2 separate regions of the Homo sapiens genome follow, and region 2 is linked to region 1. Evidence: fine-mapped expression QTL. Tissue or cell type: aorta. Region 1 holds a variant in brackets; the other region holds the start of a gene. All regions are shown on one strand. Distances are from middle to middle.

Evidence for each region. PIP is the estimated chance that this variant, and not a neighbour inherited with it, causes the effect.
Region 2: it holds the start of TMEM208, and the variant in region 1 is fine-mapped to the expression of TMEM208 in aorta (GTEx, PIP 0.93).

What each region holds. Positions count from the first base shown.
Region 1 is chr16:67,050,309-67,058,362 of GRCh38, reverse strand. The region is part of intron 3 of CBFB (core-binding factor subunit beta); the gene reads right to left. Among named protein-coding and RNA genes, the nearest start is that of CBFB, 25 kb to the right of the region's middle. The variant A/G (reference allele first, on the strand shown) is at 4,859.
Region 2 is chr16:67,223,912-67,231,965 of GRCh38, reverse strand. It overlaps TMEM208 (transmembrane protein 208), which reads right to left and starts at 4,836. Exons shown (of 6, transcript NM_014187.4): 1 at 4,742-4,836; 2 at 4,035-4,130; 3 at 3,552-3,611; 4 at 3,335-3,471; 5 at 3,085-3,169; 6 at 2,688-2,990. The coding sequence starts at 4,747. The coding sequence ends at 2,853. FHOD1 (formin homology 2 domain containing 1) reads left to right here. Exons shown (of 22, transcript NM_013241.3): 15 at 147-329; 16 at 417-536; 17 at 617-778; 18 at 1,175-1,365; 19 at 1,460-1,652; 20 at 1,738-1,900; 21 at 1,976-2,173; 22 at 2,248-2,577. The coding sequence ends at 2,330. It also overlaps the pseudogene FBXL9P. RefSeq lists enhancers at 1-108, 109-610, 4,684-5,033.

The DNA.
Region 1 (8,054 bases):
TGGAGACCAACCTGGCCAACATGGTGAAATCCAATCAATACTAAAAATACAAAAATTAGTTGGACATGGTGGCGCACAACTGTAATCCCAGCTACTCAGGAGGCTGAGGCAGGAGAATCACTTGAACCCAGGAGGCAGAAGTTGCAGTGAGCCAAGATGGTGCCACTGCACTCCAGCCTGGGCGACAGAGCAAGACTCCATCTCAACAACAACAACAACAACAACAACAACAACCGATTTGAATAACTAGTGTGATGTCATATTCATGACTGGAAAGACTACAAATGACAATTTATCCCAAAGTAATCTTCAACAAAATTCCAATGAAATATCTGAAATATCAAAATAATGTTTTTTAGAATTTGGGAAGTCTACAGTTCACATAAAACAATCAGGCCATCCATGAGAAATTAGAGAAAGAGTAATTTTTTGCCCTTTCAGATACTAAAACATACAACACAACCAATAAATATATAGGAGTGCTGTGGCAGTCAGCTACAACTTAATGGAACAAAACCAAAAAATTCAAAAATGAAACCAAGTATATAAATACTTAACATATGAAAAAGGCAACACTTAAAATCAATAGTAAAAGGATATTTTATTTAACCAGTGGAGTTGAAAAAACTGGCTAACCATGTGGAAAAGAATAGTTTAGAACAAAATTAACATAACTAACCAAAAATTATGAAAAAAAGTTCACTAACATATTAAATCAGAACAAGATAACTATTTTAAAACAAATATTAAAATAAATTGAAAAACATTTCAATAACATGTATCAGGAGGGAAAACAGGTTATATTACATTGTCAGGGGGAGGGTAAACTGGCTAATGATTTTGGGAAGGCAATTTGGGGGAATAAGGGTGCATTTTCCTTTGACACAGCAATGCCACGTCTGTGAATTAGCCTAAAACTTAATCAAAGATGTAAAAAAAAATTCTATTACAAGAATGTTCATTCTCAGGGGATTTTTGTAAATAATGGTAAATGATCAGAAATAACCTAGACGCCCAATGATAATGAGCTGAATAAATAAACTTCCAAATTGAACACTGACCTTTAAAAAGCCTGCTAGAGGATAGGCGCGGTGGCTCACGCCTGTAATCCATGTGCTTTGGGAGGCCAAGGCAGGCAAATCATCTGAGGTCAGAAGTTCGAGACCAGCCTGGCCAACATGGTGAAACCCCGTCTCTACTAAAAATACAAAAATTAGCCGGGCATGGTGGCAGGTGCCTGTAATCCCACCAACTCGGGAGGCTGAGAAAGGAGAATCACTTGAATCCAGGAGGCAAAGGTTGCAGTGAGCCAAGATTGCACCACTGCACCCCAGCCTGGGCGAAAGAGTGAGACTCCATCTCAAAAATAAAAAGCCTGCTAGAGGCCGGGCATGGTGGCTCACGCCTGTAATCCCTGCACTTTGGGAGGCCAAGAAGGGTGGATCACGAGGTCAAGAGATCAAGACCATCCTGGCCAACATGGTGAAACCCCGTCTCTACTAAAAATACAAAAATTAGCTGGGTGTGGTGGCACGCACCTGTAGTCCCAGCTACTCAGGAGGCTGAGGCAGGAGACCTGCTTGAACCCGGGAAGCCGAAGTTGCAGTGAGCTGAGATCATGCCACTGCACTCCAACCTGGTGACAGAGCGAGACTCTGTCTTAAAAAAAAAAAAAAAAGCCTGCTAGAATCCAGGCAGGTCTGCTGATCCTTGACCACCAAAAACAAGCATCCCTCACCACCAAAAACAAGCATGTTACACGGGATGTTTACATTATGCTGTTAATGGAAAAAAACATAGTAAATACTGGGTAAAGAAAACCATTAAGCCTACACACATACACACACACACGACTTGCCATTGTTATACTCTATCAAATCTACATGAACACTGTATCAGTGAACACTAAACCACTGTTCCTAGGGGAAATGCAGACGTAGGTTCCTTCTAGCCTAACATCTTCCTCAACTGATCAATACATAATTTTGTTTTATGTATGCTTCTGTTCAGACATCATCTTCAATATATATTGCTGATTCACTAACACTGAACTCACAGCTGACAGCACTGTAACTCATGACTGAAGGGAACTTATCTAACATGTACATTTTCTCCATAAGGCACATTACGGCCTTCTTGCATTTAAGGAATACTAGACTGCACTTTAACATTATGCTTGTGGGCCATTTTAAACAGTGAAATCACCAACAAAAAGCACAAAATGAAAACTTATAAAACATAGAGAACATCACAGCAACACTGACAGTAATTTCTTTCCAAAGGAGACATGCTGTTTTTTCCCTGACAATGAAGAGTTGTTCCTACCCACAGACCAATGAATCATCCAACAGTAATACTGGGATGGCCATAGGCACCCAAGAAAACAAGATATTCCACTGAAGAAGTATGTACCCTGTCGCTTGCTGTAATCATTTCTGTAGTCTATTCAACAGATTCCTTTAGAAGATACTTGGTTCTGACTCATCCTCCTTTAGCCACATGCACCTCCCTGTTCATAAATGGACAGTCAGCTGCTCAACTGTCAGATAATCTCTACAGTCATTCAATCTTGTTTGCCTCTGAATCATAACTGGGTTGCATGTATGTGTAAAAATAGCTTCTTCTATAGTGATTTAATGTAATTTACCGATCATCTTACAGTCCAAAAGAGAAATCATAAAATGAAAAACTAAAGAAAGTGTCTGGAGGCCGGGTGTGGTGGCTCACACCTGTAATCCCAGCACTTTGGGAGGCCGAGGCAGATGGATCACGAGGTCAGGAGATCGAGACCATCATGGCTAACACAGTGAAACCCCATCTCTACTAAAAAAATACAAAAAAATCAGCTGGGCGTGGTGGCGGGCACCTACTCAGTAGGCTGAGGCAGGAGAATGGCGTGAACCCGGGAGGCGGAGCTTGCAGTGAGCCGAGATGCGCCACTGCACTCCAGCCTGGGCGACAGAGCGAGACTCCGTCTCAAAAAAAAAAAAAAAAAAAAAAAAAAAGAAAGTGTCTGGAATTCAATAGATTTAATACACTGTGTGTGTGTGCGTATACACATATAAATACATATTCAATAAATGGATACTAAACTCAGACTTCTGTTAAGAATAAATTAGACCCTCCAAAAAGTCATAAAAATGTATTAACTTGCCACCAATATGCTCTCCACATAATTATTTTAATTTGGTTTCACTGTATTTTTCTTTTCTTACATGAAAAGCTGAGCCAAGATAAATTCTGACTTTCACCCTTCAGTTGCAGCCATTTCCTCTGAAGTGATGTAAAGCAGTAAAAATCTACCAGCTAGATTCTCAGATAAAATGTACCCGATAAACAAGAAGAGGATACTAACAAAAAAGGAACATTTGTAGCACACACAAAAAAGAGCTCTTGGTGAAACCCTGTCTCTACTAAAAAAAAAAAAAAAAATACAAAAAATTAGCCAGGCGTGGTGGTGGGCACCTCTAGTCCCAGCTACGCGTGGGAGGCTGAGGCAGGAGAATGGCGTGAACCCGGGAGGCGGAGCTTGCAGTGAGGCGAGATCGCACCACTGCACTCCAGCCTGGGCGACAGAGCGAGACTCCGTCTCAAAACAAACAAACAAACAAAAAGCTCTGTTGAAATATAGTAGAAATTAAGACCCAATATAAGACTCTGAAGATAAAGTAGAGGAAATCTTCTGGAAGGTAGACCAAAAAGACAAAAGAGACAGTAAGAAAATAAGGTAACAGGATCATTCCTGTGGGTCTAACATCCAAATAGTAGATGTTCCAGAAAAGAATAGAAAAAATATAAGAAAGGAAGTCATCAATTAATATAAGAAAATTTCCTTACGAAGGACACAGCTGCCATACTGTAAAGGGCTGGCAAGTACCCTGCACAAGGAATGACTGTGGACCGACACTAGGTTACATCATAGATAAATACCAAAACATGGAGACAAAGATTTTACAAACTTCCAAAGACGGGGAAATTGGTCACAAACAGATCAGGAAACACAATGACTTCAGAGATTTTCAACTGCAACATTTAAACCAAGACAATGAAACAAGGCCTTCTTAACGAAAATAATCTCTAACCTCAAACTCTAGAACAAGACAAACTTACAATAAAGTATCGTAGAATAAAGACACTTCAAATATGCAACAACTCTGTTATCCACAAAGAGACCGTAAACCAAGAAACAGGAAGACAGAAAAACTGAAAAAGAAACAAAAAGAAAAAAACAAAAAAGCCCCTCACAGCAGAGGATGAACACAGAAATCAGTATGAAAGCAGTGCGCTGGATATAGAGGACAATCAGTCTAGATTGAAGAGATGGACATTCTGAGGATGGTCATCACCAAGATCCTGAGGGCAAAATGCTCATATATAAGCCTTCCCCACTGCTGGGACCAGCTAAGGACACTCATTTGAGCTGACAAAGGTGATGTGCTTTGACTCACTCCTGTGAAAAGAAGGTAGCTCTGGAATGAGACATCAATTTTGACAAAAGAAATTAAAAAAAAAAAAAAAGGATAAAAGAAGGTAGGTCATGGTGAGCCTAGAAGCAGAAAATACCAGAGCAGCTAACTCCCTCTGACCATATTCCTCCACATCTCCGGCACACGGTGAGCAATGGTTTCAGTGTGCCAGATGCCCTAACTCCAGTGTGAGCCCTAGGTTTCCCATAATCCACTCATGACTGTGCTCACAAGCTTCCCCAGGGAGGCTCTAAAAATTCACAGGGAAGCTGAATCCGGACTTGACCCTAAGATTCTGTTCAGCTCATCTTCTAGGAGCTGCATCTGAAAGTGACATTAGAAGGCTGGGTGCGGTGGCTCACGCTTGTAATCCCAGCACTTTGGGAGGCCGA[A/G]GAGTGTGGATCACAAGGTCAGGAGATCGAGACCAGCCTGGCTAACACAGTGACACCCCATCTCTACTAAAAATACAAAAAATTAGCCAGGTGTGGTGGTGAGGGGGCCCGTAGTCCCAGCTACTCGGGAGGCTGAGGCAGGAGAATGGCGTGAACCCAGGAGGCGGAGCTTGCAGTGAGCCGAGATCGCACCACTGCACTCCAACCTGGGTGACAGAGCAAGACTCCTCTCACCAAAAAAAAAAAAAAAAAAAAAGAGAGAAAGTGACATTAGAGTCCGTTGTTTACACTGCCCTGAAGTGTGTGCTTCCTAGTTTCATTTTTTTTAAAAACTAAACAATGCGTTATTTAGAGATATATGCACAGGAAATAAAATGACAAAGAAAAGTAAGGGAACAAATACATCAATCAGGATAGTGATTATTTTGTGGGGGGAGACGGGTTGAGGAAAAGAACTGTAAAGTTTTCTTTCTCTTTTTTTCTTTTTTTTTTTTTTGAGATAGCATCTTGCTCTGTGGTATGAACACGGCTCACTGCAGCCTTGATTTCCAGGACTCATTTTGAGATAGCATCTTGCTCTGTGGTATGAACACAGCTCACTGCAACCTTGATTTCCAGGACTCAAGGGATCCTCCTGCCTCAGCCTCCCAAGTAGCTGGGACTACAGGCCTGTATCACGACACCTGGCTAATTATTTTATTTTTTTGTAGAGATGGGGTCTCACTTTGTTGCCCGGGCTGGTCTGTAACTCCTGGGCTCAAGTAATCCTCCCTCCTTAACCTCTGAAAGTGCTGCAATTATAGGTGTGAGCCACCATACCTGGCCAACTGTGCAGGCAGTACTGTTCAACAGAAATATATAATGTGAATCACAAATGCAAGCCACATATGTAACTGTAAATTGTCTAGCAGGCATTTTTTTTTTTTTAAGAGACAGGGTCTCCCTCCTTCACCCAGGTTGGATTGCAGTGGCACCATCACAGCTCACTACAGCCTTGAACTCCTGGGCTCAAGCAAACCTCCCACTTCAGCCTCTCCAGGAGCTAGGACTACAGGCACACCCCACTATGCCCAGTCACTTAAAAAATGTTTTTATTTTTTAAGGATGGGGTCTCACTATGTTGACCAGGCTGGTCTCGGACTCCTGGCTTCATGCAATCTTCCCACCTTGGCCTCCCAAAGTGCTAGGATTACAGGCATGAGTAACTGCACTCGGCCTAGTAGGTATTTTTTAAAAAGTAAAAAGAGGTGAAATTAATTTTAATAATGTTACTTAACTCAAAACATCTAAAATTTTCAACATGGTATCAAGCAAGCAATATCTTGGGTCAGGCACAGTGGCTCACGCCTGCAATCCCAGCACTGCGGGAGGCTGAGGCAGGTGGATCACTTGAGCTCACAAGTTCGAGACCAGCCTGGGCAACATGGGAGGAGGGCTTGAGCCTGGGAGACAGAGGTTGCAGAGAGCTGAGATCGTGTCACGGCACTCCAGCTTGGGTGACAGAGCCAGAACTTGTCTCAAAATATATATATATATTCCTATTGCTATATATATGTATGCGTGTGTGTGTGTGTGTGTGTGTGTGTGTGTGTATACACATATATATATATGCCTGTAATCCCAGCTACTCAGGAGGCTGAGGCAGGAGAATAGCTTAAAACCCAGAAGGTGGAGGTTGCAGTGAGCCAAGATCACGCCACTGCGCTCCAGCCTGGGCAACAGAGCGAGACTCCAACTCAGAAAAAAAAAAACACAAAAAAAACACCAAAATCATATAATACATTTAACGTAGACTTGAAATAAGGCTCTCAGCTTAAACATTTTACCTATATATGTTGGTCATTTAGACATTTCTCACGTTTTACATAAACGTGGCAGGTTATGCTATTCATGATGACACTTAGAAAACTAATTTAGTTAAGTTGATAGAAATACATACAAAAACACACTGTGAAACAAACCCAGAAAAAATAATGAGTATAAAACTGGATCCATATATGTATGTGTGTGTGTACATATATATATATAGCAATATATTACATTATTTTGGATATATATTTTGGATATATATACATATATTTGGATCCATATATATATTACATTTTGGATCCATATAAATACATTACATTATTTTTGTTTTTCATACCAGGTTTCAAAATCTGGTTTGTGTTTTTTCACACATCACATGTGAATTCACACTAGCGACATTATAAGTGTTCAACAGCCACATGTGGATTGTATAATAGCTACCATACGGAACATCAGTCCTACTATACCTATGTTCCTTTTATTATTATTCCTAAAATGTACATGTTTTTATCTATTCTTTGTAAGACACATCTAACAAATGAAAAATAACTTAAAAGAATTCCTAAAAGGAAAATGCATCAAGTACAGTAGTCCCCGCTTAGCCACAGTTTTGCTCTCCATGATTTCAGTTACTCACAGTCAATCACGGTCCAAAAATATTATATGAAAAATTCCAGAAATAAACAATTCATAAGTTTTAAATTGCACTCCTTCTCTCCAGAGAGGTGAATCATCTCTTTGTCCAGCACATCCATGTTTTATAAGGAATGTGTCCATTAGTTACTTAGTGGCCATCCTGCTGCAGTATGGCAGTGCTTATGTTCAAATAACCTTAATTTTACATTGATTACTGTATATTGTTATTAGTGTTCCACTTTATTTTTTTAAACTTTTAGTTTTTTGGAGACAGGGTTTTGCTCTATTGCCCAGGCTAGAGTGTCATGGCTCAATCATAGTTCACTGTAGGCTCAAACTCCTAGGTTCAAGCAATTCTCCCACCTCAGCCTCCCAAATAGCTAGGACTACAGGTGCATGCCACCATACCCGGCTAATTTTTAAACTTTTTTGTACAGACAGGGTCTCATATTGCCCAGGCTGGTCTCAAACTCCTGGACTCAAGCAATCCTCCTGCCTTGGTCTCCCAAAACATTGAGATTATAGCTGTGAGCAGCCTTGCCCGGCCACGTTCTACTTTATTATTAGTTAAGGTTGTTAATCTCTTACTGTGCCTAATTTATAAACTAAACTTTATCATACGTATATATGTATATCTGTATAGGAAAAAAACAGCACATATATAGGATTTGGTACTATCAACAGTACAGGAATCCCTGAAAGTCTTAGAACGTTATATATACATATATATGTGTGTGTCTTAGAACATAAT
Region 2 (8,054 bases), 170 kb before region 1:
TCTGGTGGTGGGCATGGGCTTGGCATTTCTGCAGGGCAGTCCCCAGACACTGGGGCCTCCCCTAGATGACTGAGGGGTCAAGACCAATGCCTCAGGCCTCAGGCCTGCATTGAGGGGGCCATGTCAGGCTCTGGCTACATCCTCAGAAGCTACTGACCATGATGCCCACGGAGGAAGAGCGGCAGAAGATTGAGGAAGCCCAGCTGGCCAACCCTGACATACCCCTGGGCCCAGCCGAGAACTTCCTGATGACTCTTGCCTCCATTGGCGGCCTCGCTGCTCGTCTACAACTCTGGGCCTTCAAGCTGGACTATGACAGCATGGAGCGGGTACCTGGGTCTTGGAGTGGGACAGTCAGTAGGGACAGGTAAGCATCATGACCATGTAGTCTGAGAGTCCCTGGTCTCCCATACCAGGAAATTGCTGAGCCACTGTTTGACCTGAAAGTGGGTATGGAACAGCTGGTACAGAATGCCACCTTCCGCTGCATCCTGGCTACCCTCCTAGCGGTGGGCAACTTCCTCAATGGCTCCCAGGTGAGTGAGAGTACATGGGGACTAGGGGGAGTCAGGGTTCTGGAGCCAACCAGGCCCAGGCTCAGAAAGGGTCCTTTCAGAGCAGCGGCTTTGAGCTGAGCTACCTGGAGAAGGTGTCAGAGGTGAAGGACACGGTGCGTCGACAGTCACTGCTACACCATCTCTGCTCCCTAGTGCTCCAGACCCGGCCTGAGTCCTCTGACCTCTATTCAGAAATCCCTGCCCTGACCCGCTGTGCCAAGGTTAGCACCTGCCAGAATCAACCAAGGCCGGACAAGGCATGAGGAGCGCTGCTTCCTGGGCCTGGCTCCTCCCCCTTCTCCCCATTTGGGCTGCTGTGCCAGGGCTTGCTCCAGCCACCTGGGTGTGAGCTATGCCCTCTGCCAGAAATGCTCTTTCCTCTATTGGCCTGGCCACACCTACTCAGTCTTTGGGTCTGTTTAACTGCCACTTCCCCCAGTAAACCTTCTGCTCCCCATTCACATCAGATGGACTTGTGTCTCTTGCACTAGTCTATGAGATTTGGATGTCTGTGTCCTTAGGGCCCAAGCTGGCCACTCTGGCCCAGAAGCAGCCTCGGGCCATGTCTTGTCTACAGGGTGTGGGGGGACAGTATGTGCACCCCCTTGCTTTCTCAGGTGGACTTTGAACAGCTGACTGAGAACCTGGGGCAGCTGGAGCGCCGGAGCCGGGCAGCCGAGGAGAGCCTGCGGAGCTTGGCCAAGCATGAGCTGGCCCCAGCCCTGCGTGCCCGCCTCACCCACTTCCTGGACCAGTGTGCCCGCCGTGTTGCCATGCTAAGGATAGTGCACCGCCGTGTCTGCAATAGGTAGGGGCATGGACCCAAGAGAGGCAGGACGGCCACCACCCTCCCTCAGACAATAAGCAGGACTTACTGTCCCTCCCTACTCTGACCTGCCTAGGTTCCATGCCTTCCTGCTCTACCTGGGCTACACCCCGCAGGCGGCCCGTGAAGTGCGCATCATGCAGTTCTGCCACACGCTGCGGGAATTTGCGCTTGAGTATCGGACTTGCCGGGAACGAGTGCTACAGCAGCAGCAGAAGCAGGCCACATACCGTGAGCGCAACAAGACCCGGGGACGCATGATCACCGAGGTGGGTGCCCTTCCAGGTCTTAGTCTTGACTGCCACCTCCTTGGTTTCCTTCGCTCCTCCCAGCTCACCCTTCTTCTTTCTCCAGACAGAGAAGTTCTCAGGTGTGGCTGGGGAAGCCCCCAGCAACCCCTCTGTCCCAGTAGCAGTGAGCAGCGGGCCAGGCCGGGGAGATGCTGACAGTCATGCTAGTATGAAGAGTCTGCTGACCAGCAGGCCTGAGGACACCACACACAATCGCCGCAGCAGAGGTGAGGCCCATAGCAGCTGTGGGGAATGGGCTCCAGTGCCACCTTGGCCTGACTTTGCTATCTGGCCTTCCTCAGGCATGGTCCAGAGCAGCTCCCCAATCATGCCCACAGTGGGGCCCTCCACTGCATCCCCAGAAGAACCCCCAGGCTCCAGTTTACCCAGTGATACATCAGATGAGATCATGGACCTTCTGGTGCAGTCAGTGACCAAGAGCAGTCCTCGTGCCTTAGCTGCTAGGGAACGCAAGCGTTCCCGCGGCAACCGCAAGTCTTGTAAGTAACCCCCCACAATCCCACTGCCCACCTGAACCCCATCAACCCCCTCCAACCCTGCTCTGTCCCTGCAGTGAGAAGGACGTTGAAGAGTGGGCTCGGAGATGACCTGGTGCAGGCACTGGGACTAAGCAAGGGTCCTGGCCTGGAGGTGTGAAGGTGCTGTATCCCGGAAATCTATCTGGACCCTGGACTGCAGTGCAGGAGATGACAGAGTGAGGAGGGCCCAGAGCAGAATTCTGGCCCCAGAACTCTGTGCCCAGGAGCCATGCCTTGAGCAGTATTAGCCGTGTGTGTATGCATGTGAGTGTGTGTGTATGTGTGTGTGTGCATGCATATGCATGTGCATGTGTGTGAGCTCCTTGAACGCACGGAGCAAAATAAAATTTTCTTAGCTAATCCAACAGGTTTCTCTTCTTTCAGGGTCCCCACCAGGCTGGGTTTGTAGCAGGAGGGAAATCCCATAGGACCAGCTTTTCCTGCCTCATCCCTCATCACCCACACAGCCATCAGCCACATTCTAAGCCATTTATTCAACGACCCTATAGAGTATAAGTATACCCAATACCTCAGACTGCTTTTGGCCCCTGGACTAGACCCTCATTGCTCCAGGCATGAGGGGCTGTGCACCCTGACAGAGCCACCCAGGGCCAGTGGCCTGTGGCCACAATGTCAATGGCTATAACCGCTTCATCTGCCGCCGCTCCTGTCGGCGCTGCCGTTTCTCATTGTGCTCTGGTGCTGGGGTGCCACTGTCTGCAGTGAACCAGGGGCCCAGCACATTCACCCACAGGAGGTAAAGGGCCCGGCCTGGAGCCTACAAGAGAAACGGTAACTTGAAGCAAGATGCAGGGAATAAAAGATGGGGAGGGTTAGATGCCCCTTCTTGGGAGCGCCCCCAGCCCACATACCAGAAGCCAGAAGGACCAGACATAGAGAGAGAAGCAGCTGAGCACCTGCACGATGGCTGTCAGTAGGATCACATCCTTAAGGTGCCTGTGGATAGAAATAAAGCTGGAAAGACAGCATATGGGCCCTTCCACCCTTTTCAAGTTGCAACTCCCTTCCACCCTTTTCAAGTTACAAGTAGCTGTGCTTCTTGGGCTATCTGGGCCCCAGCCCTGGGGCCGCTCACCTGGGCTGGCGGTGGGGGACACTCACTCTGCCATGCCCTGCTCCATGTTGAGGTCCATGCCACCATCCATCAGGGCCCCATCCTCAGAGAACGCTGCTCGTGCCATCGAGCTCATAGAGTGGTAGCTGGCCCCATACACTGCCAGACTAAAGCCCAGGGCCAACTGCAGAGCAAGAATGAGGGTATCAAAGGCCAGCCACTGACCCTACGCACTCATCCACCTCCCAGGATGGAGATACTTACCCAGGCCCAAAATGAGGCAGATGAGTAAAAGAAGACCAACGTCACAAGGCAGTAAATGGCCTGCAAGCAATCACAGGATCAGGTTGGGGTCAGAAGTTACCTCCAAACCATGGGTCTCCCTCAACTCTGACCAAGAATTAGGCCAGGCTGTGGGAGGAGCAAGGTTGTTCTTACAGGGTTGAAGAAAGGGCCCTGCTCCCTGAATCCCAAATACCCACTCTCCTCTGACACCCAACTCAGCCCAGGAAAGAAGCCTTTGTGTACTTGGAGGTAGGAAGAGCTCTCAAATTCAGCTACGACTCACGCCTTCATTTTCTTTGTGTTTTACTAGTTAGCACTTTCTCTGTGCCCAGATCTCTCATTTCTTTTTGACTGGAGCTCTCTTCTAGAGCTTTTTCGGGTACCACTCCTCGTCACCAAGCAGGGCTGAGGACTAGGGAACTGACTATAAGTGGGCATAGAAGCAAGGAGGTAGGCACTTACATTGGCCCCCAGTATGATCCGCAGGTAGAACTTCAGAGTCTCTCTGTTCTCTTCAAATATCTGCTTCTTCCCTCTCGTGCCCACTTTGCCCTTGGGCTGCAGAGGAATGATGAGATGCCGTCAGGAGGCCACGGTCCTCCTCATTCTCCCCACCAGCCTGGTGAGCTATAGAGCTCCATCCGCAACTCAGCCAGGTCCCCGTAGTGCAGAAACCTAGCAAAATCCCTGGGATGTCCACCCATCCTCCAGTCCATTCTGCCTAGGGCTGACGCCATCTCTCCAGCACCCGCAGCTAGGATCAATCGCCTCTTGCTCGCCCTGGAACAATTCAATCCTAAGCTAATACCGCCTCTGGATCCCGTGGTAGTCTGGCTTTAGGCTAACGACTCTTCCAAGGGTACTCCTGAGCGGAGTTGAATGGTGCCTCTCTCAGGCCTCCGCTGGCGTAGTCCCGATCTGGGTTAACCCCCACCTCAGGTCACTTAGATCTCTGGCCTGCCCTGGTACTGATGCCCACCCCGCTCTGGCACTAGTCCTGGTATGGTCCTGCGCCGCCATCCCCCCAGCCCAGCTCTAGCACGGTCTGGCCAGGGATGGCGCCCCGCTCTGGCCCACCCCATATCCCTTAATGTTCTTTCTCAGTTTTCACTCTCACAGCCCCTGGAGAGCTTTGCTGGTGCGGACCCCGCCCTATCCATCCTCCTTACCGCCATGGTGCGAGGCAAATACCCAGCCCGGGAAACACGGGAGAGCGACCGAAACCGCAATCACTAAGCACCACATCGGCAGCTCATGCACTTCCGGCGCAGACCGAAGTCGTCAGCTTTTGCGACGGAAATAGGTCTCACTTCCTTCCCAAGCCCCGCCCCAAAGAGGCGAGACTACATTTCCCAGAAAGCCTTGCGCAGTGGGGGCGGAGGCGGCAGGGATGCGATGGCGGAGTCGCTGCCCCTGGAGGTGAGAGGAAGCCGCCCTCAGGCCTAGCTCTGGACAGGCCCCGCCCTCGCGGTCCTGAGCTTTGGGGAGGGGCTGTCAGATAGCTAGCCCGGCCCCTCCAGCCTGGCGGAAACGACCCGCCCTCCCGATCCCGGGACCTTCTAGCTCTGGGTAACGGTTCCTCCTTTGGGCCACTCTGTCCCTTTAGCTTGGGGGACCGTCCTCCCCTTCCCTATCGGCCCCAGAAGATAGCTGCCCTGTCATCTCCGCGAGAACAGGCCCTCTGCCCATCCCCTTCCCTTGAAGTGGCTGTCTCCTCCCCGCTCAGTTCTGGAAGATGTCCGCTCCATCTCATCGTCCCGAAGGGTAACTGATCTTATCCCCATTGGTCCCTTGGGATGATCTCTCCATTTCCTACAGAGACGGCCGCCCCTTCTCCCTGGCAGTGGGAAACAGACTGCTCCCTCCCCATCAACTGCAATGATCTCTGAGTTCCTTTAACAAGGATAGGCCTGTTCCCCATTCCTAGGCCCCTAGTGATGGCCGCCCTTACCTCTTTCACTCCGTGGGATGTTTGCTCCTTCCCCTTAGCCAGGGGCAAGACCACTCTGCCCCATCTGCCAGGGAGATAACAGGTTTTGTCTTCAGTGGCCTGTTGGAATGGCTTCTCCATCTCTTTTGTCCTGAGGGTTGGCAGCCCCCTCTCTCTGCCCATGGGAAACAGGCCACCCTTTCCCATCGGTCCTGGAATGATGCTCCTGTCCTTAGCAAAAATAGGCCTGTTCCCACCCCTATTGAGCTTGCAGTGCTATCCCTTTCCCCCTTAGCTTTAGGGGCTATCTATTTCCATCCCCATAGACCCCATGAGTGACCAATCATTATCTCCAGTAGCCCCCTTGAGATGGGACTCATGGGATGGTCACTCCATCCTCATCACTGCCTCCTCTTGTCCCTCTAGAAAGGCCACCCTCTTCTTAGGTCAATGAATTGTGTCCCTTCCCGACTCACCCCAAGGGATGACAGGTTTGTTCCCCTCTCCCTTTGCTCTTGGGCTGGCTGCTTAGCCCCAGAAGACAGGATGGCCACTGTCTTAACTCAGCTCAAACAGGCTTCCGTGCCTCCCTGGAGGGATTGGGACTTGGTCAGTCCCAGTCCCCATCAATACTGTCTTCCCTATGCCTCCCTTCCTGGCCCAGAAGTCTATTCTGCCAGTCATTGTCCTCTCAGTAATGACTGCTTTATTTCCCCGACCCCTTCCCTGAGCATACTCTTGGTGAAAATAGAGGTAGAGGACTGGACTGTCCAACCTTAATTTAATCCAGTAAGCACTGGCTGAGCACTGTGCCTGCGTGCTTGGCATCTGAGAAAGGAAGGAGAGATCACAATGGGTTGGTGAAGTTAAGCTTCAAGAAGGGGATCCCAGGGAAAAGGCCCGCATAGGCAAAAGGAAATAGACATGCTGTGTGCGTAGGGCAATGGGGAGACTGGACTGGGGAAGTTTGGGGACCAGCGAGTCCAATCAGGCACAGAGGCCTGGCAGTGCTGATCCAGGAGTGGAGACTGTCCTGAGAGTACTGTGAACCCTGAAGTTTTACAGCAGGGGTGAGCTGAAACTGAAAACTGTTTTATAGGAAAAATTAACCTTGTGACAGTGTGCATAATGTATTAGCAAGGATGAACTTGGAGGCAAAGAGTTCAGGTGGGAGATTGTGGAAGGAATCCAGGTTTGGGGTGGTAGAAATCTGAGCTACTGAGGTGGGGAAGTTGCAGAGGTAGAAATTTTAGTAACAGCAATCCAGCAACCATTTATGGAACATCTAGTTGTCACACACACACTATATATATGTAAAATTTAATCCCCATGAGGCTATGATCTAGATTTTTTTAAAGTATCCCTATTTTATAGATATGGAAACTGAAACTCCCAGAGGTCAAGTACCTTGTTTAAGGTCACACATCAGTATATGTGGAAGTAGTGGAGCTGGAATTTGAATGAGTTTAGGTTAGCCTGGCCTAAAGCCTGTGCATTACACCTGTATCTGGGAGGAAGGGACAGAATGGTTTGAATAGTTGAAAGTGTTATCAGGTAGATGCACTGTTGGCATTGAAAGGGGAATTTGGGAGGAGAGGCTGTTTTGGGCTGAGGGTAGAACATGAGTTTTGGTTGAGATTAAAGTGATGGCTAAACATTTGCATGGACAGTTGGCAATATGGACTAGCACTTGGATAATAGGACAATATGGGAATATTGAATTGTTGGTTATTCCTGTGTTGGTAAACAGAAAACCAAAAGACCCAGGTCTGAGCCCTGGGAGCCACAGAAGAATCCAAAAACGAGACAATTGGGATGCAGGGAGGAAGATTCCAGAAGAAAAGAAGAGTTAATATCAAATCATTCTAGGCCTCACTGGTAACCCCTTCCCCAGTCCCATTTAGGACCTCTAACCTCACCACCCCCTAGGTGGGGGGAAGGGCCTGAGCCTCCCAGGCTAGGTCTTGCTGGGAGCGCATCTTAACAACCAGTGGAGAGGGCAAGGTGGCAGTGAAGAAGACAGAAAAACAGCAGGGTCCCAGAGCCTGAGCCATGAGGGCAGGAGGACCAAGCATGACTTCCTGAGGACCAGAGTGAGCACACCTGGCCTGCTGTGCTCTAGGTCCTATGCAAGACACTTGGCTGTGTTCTTTAATTCTCACAATAATCCATTTAAATCTCACTACAATTGCAATTTCACAGATAAGGAAAACAAAGTTCGAGAGGTCAGTTGGCAGAGTAGAGATTTGAACTAGGTTTATCTGGCCTCAATGCCCAGGCTTTTTCTACCCAGCTAGGCAGGAAGTTTGATTCTTATCAGTCAGTGCAAGCCTGCACCCAGCTCAGGAAAGGTTTGTTTACAGGAAAGATACCTGAAGCCTGGAGCGGGGAAGTGAATGCTTCGTGAAGCTTCACATCCAAGATAAAGTAGAAGCCAGGGCTCTGGTGCCCTCAGACCCATGGTGCTGTCAGCTGGAGTGGGTTCCAAAGACCTCCCACCTCTAACAGTCCCCAATGCCCTGTCTTTTTCCCTCAGATGCTCACATATATTC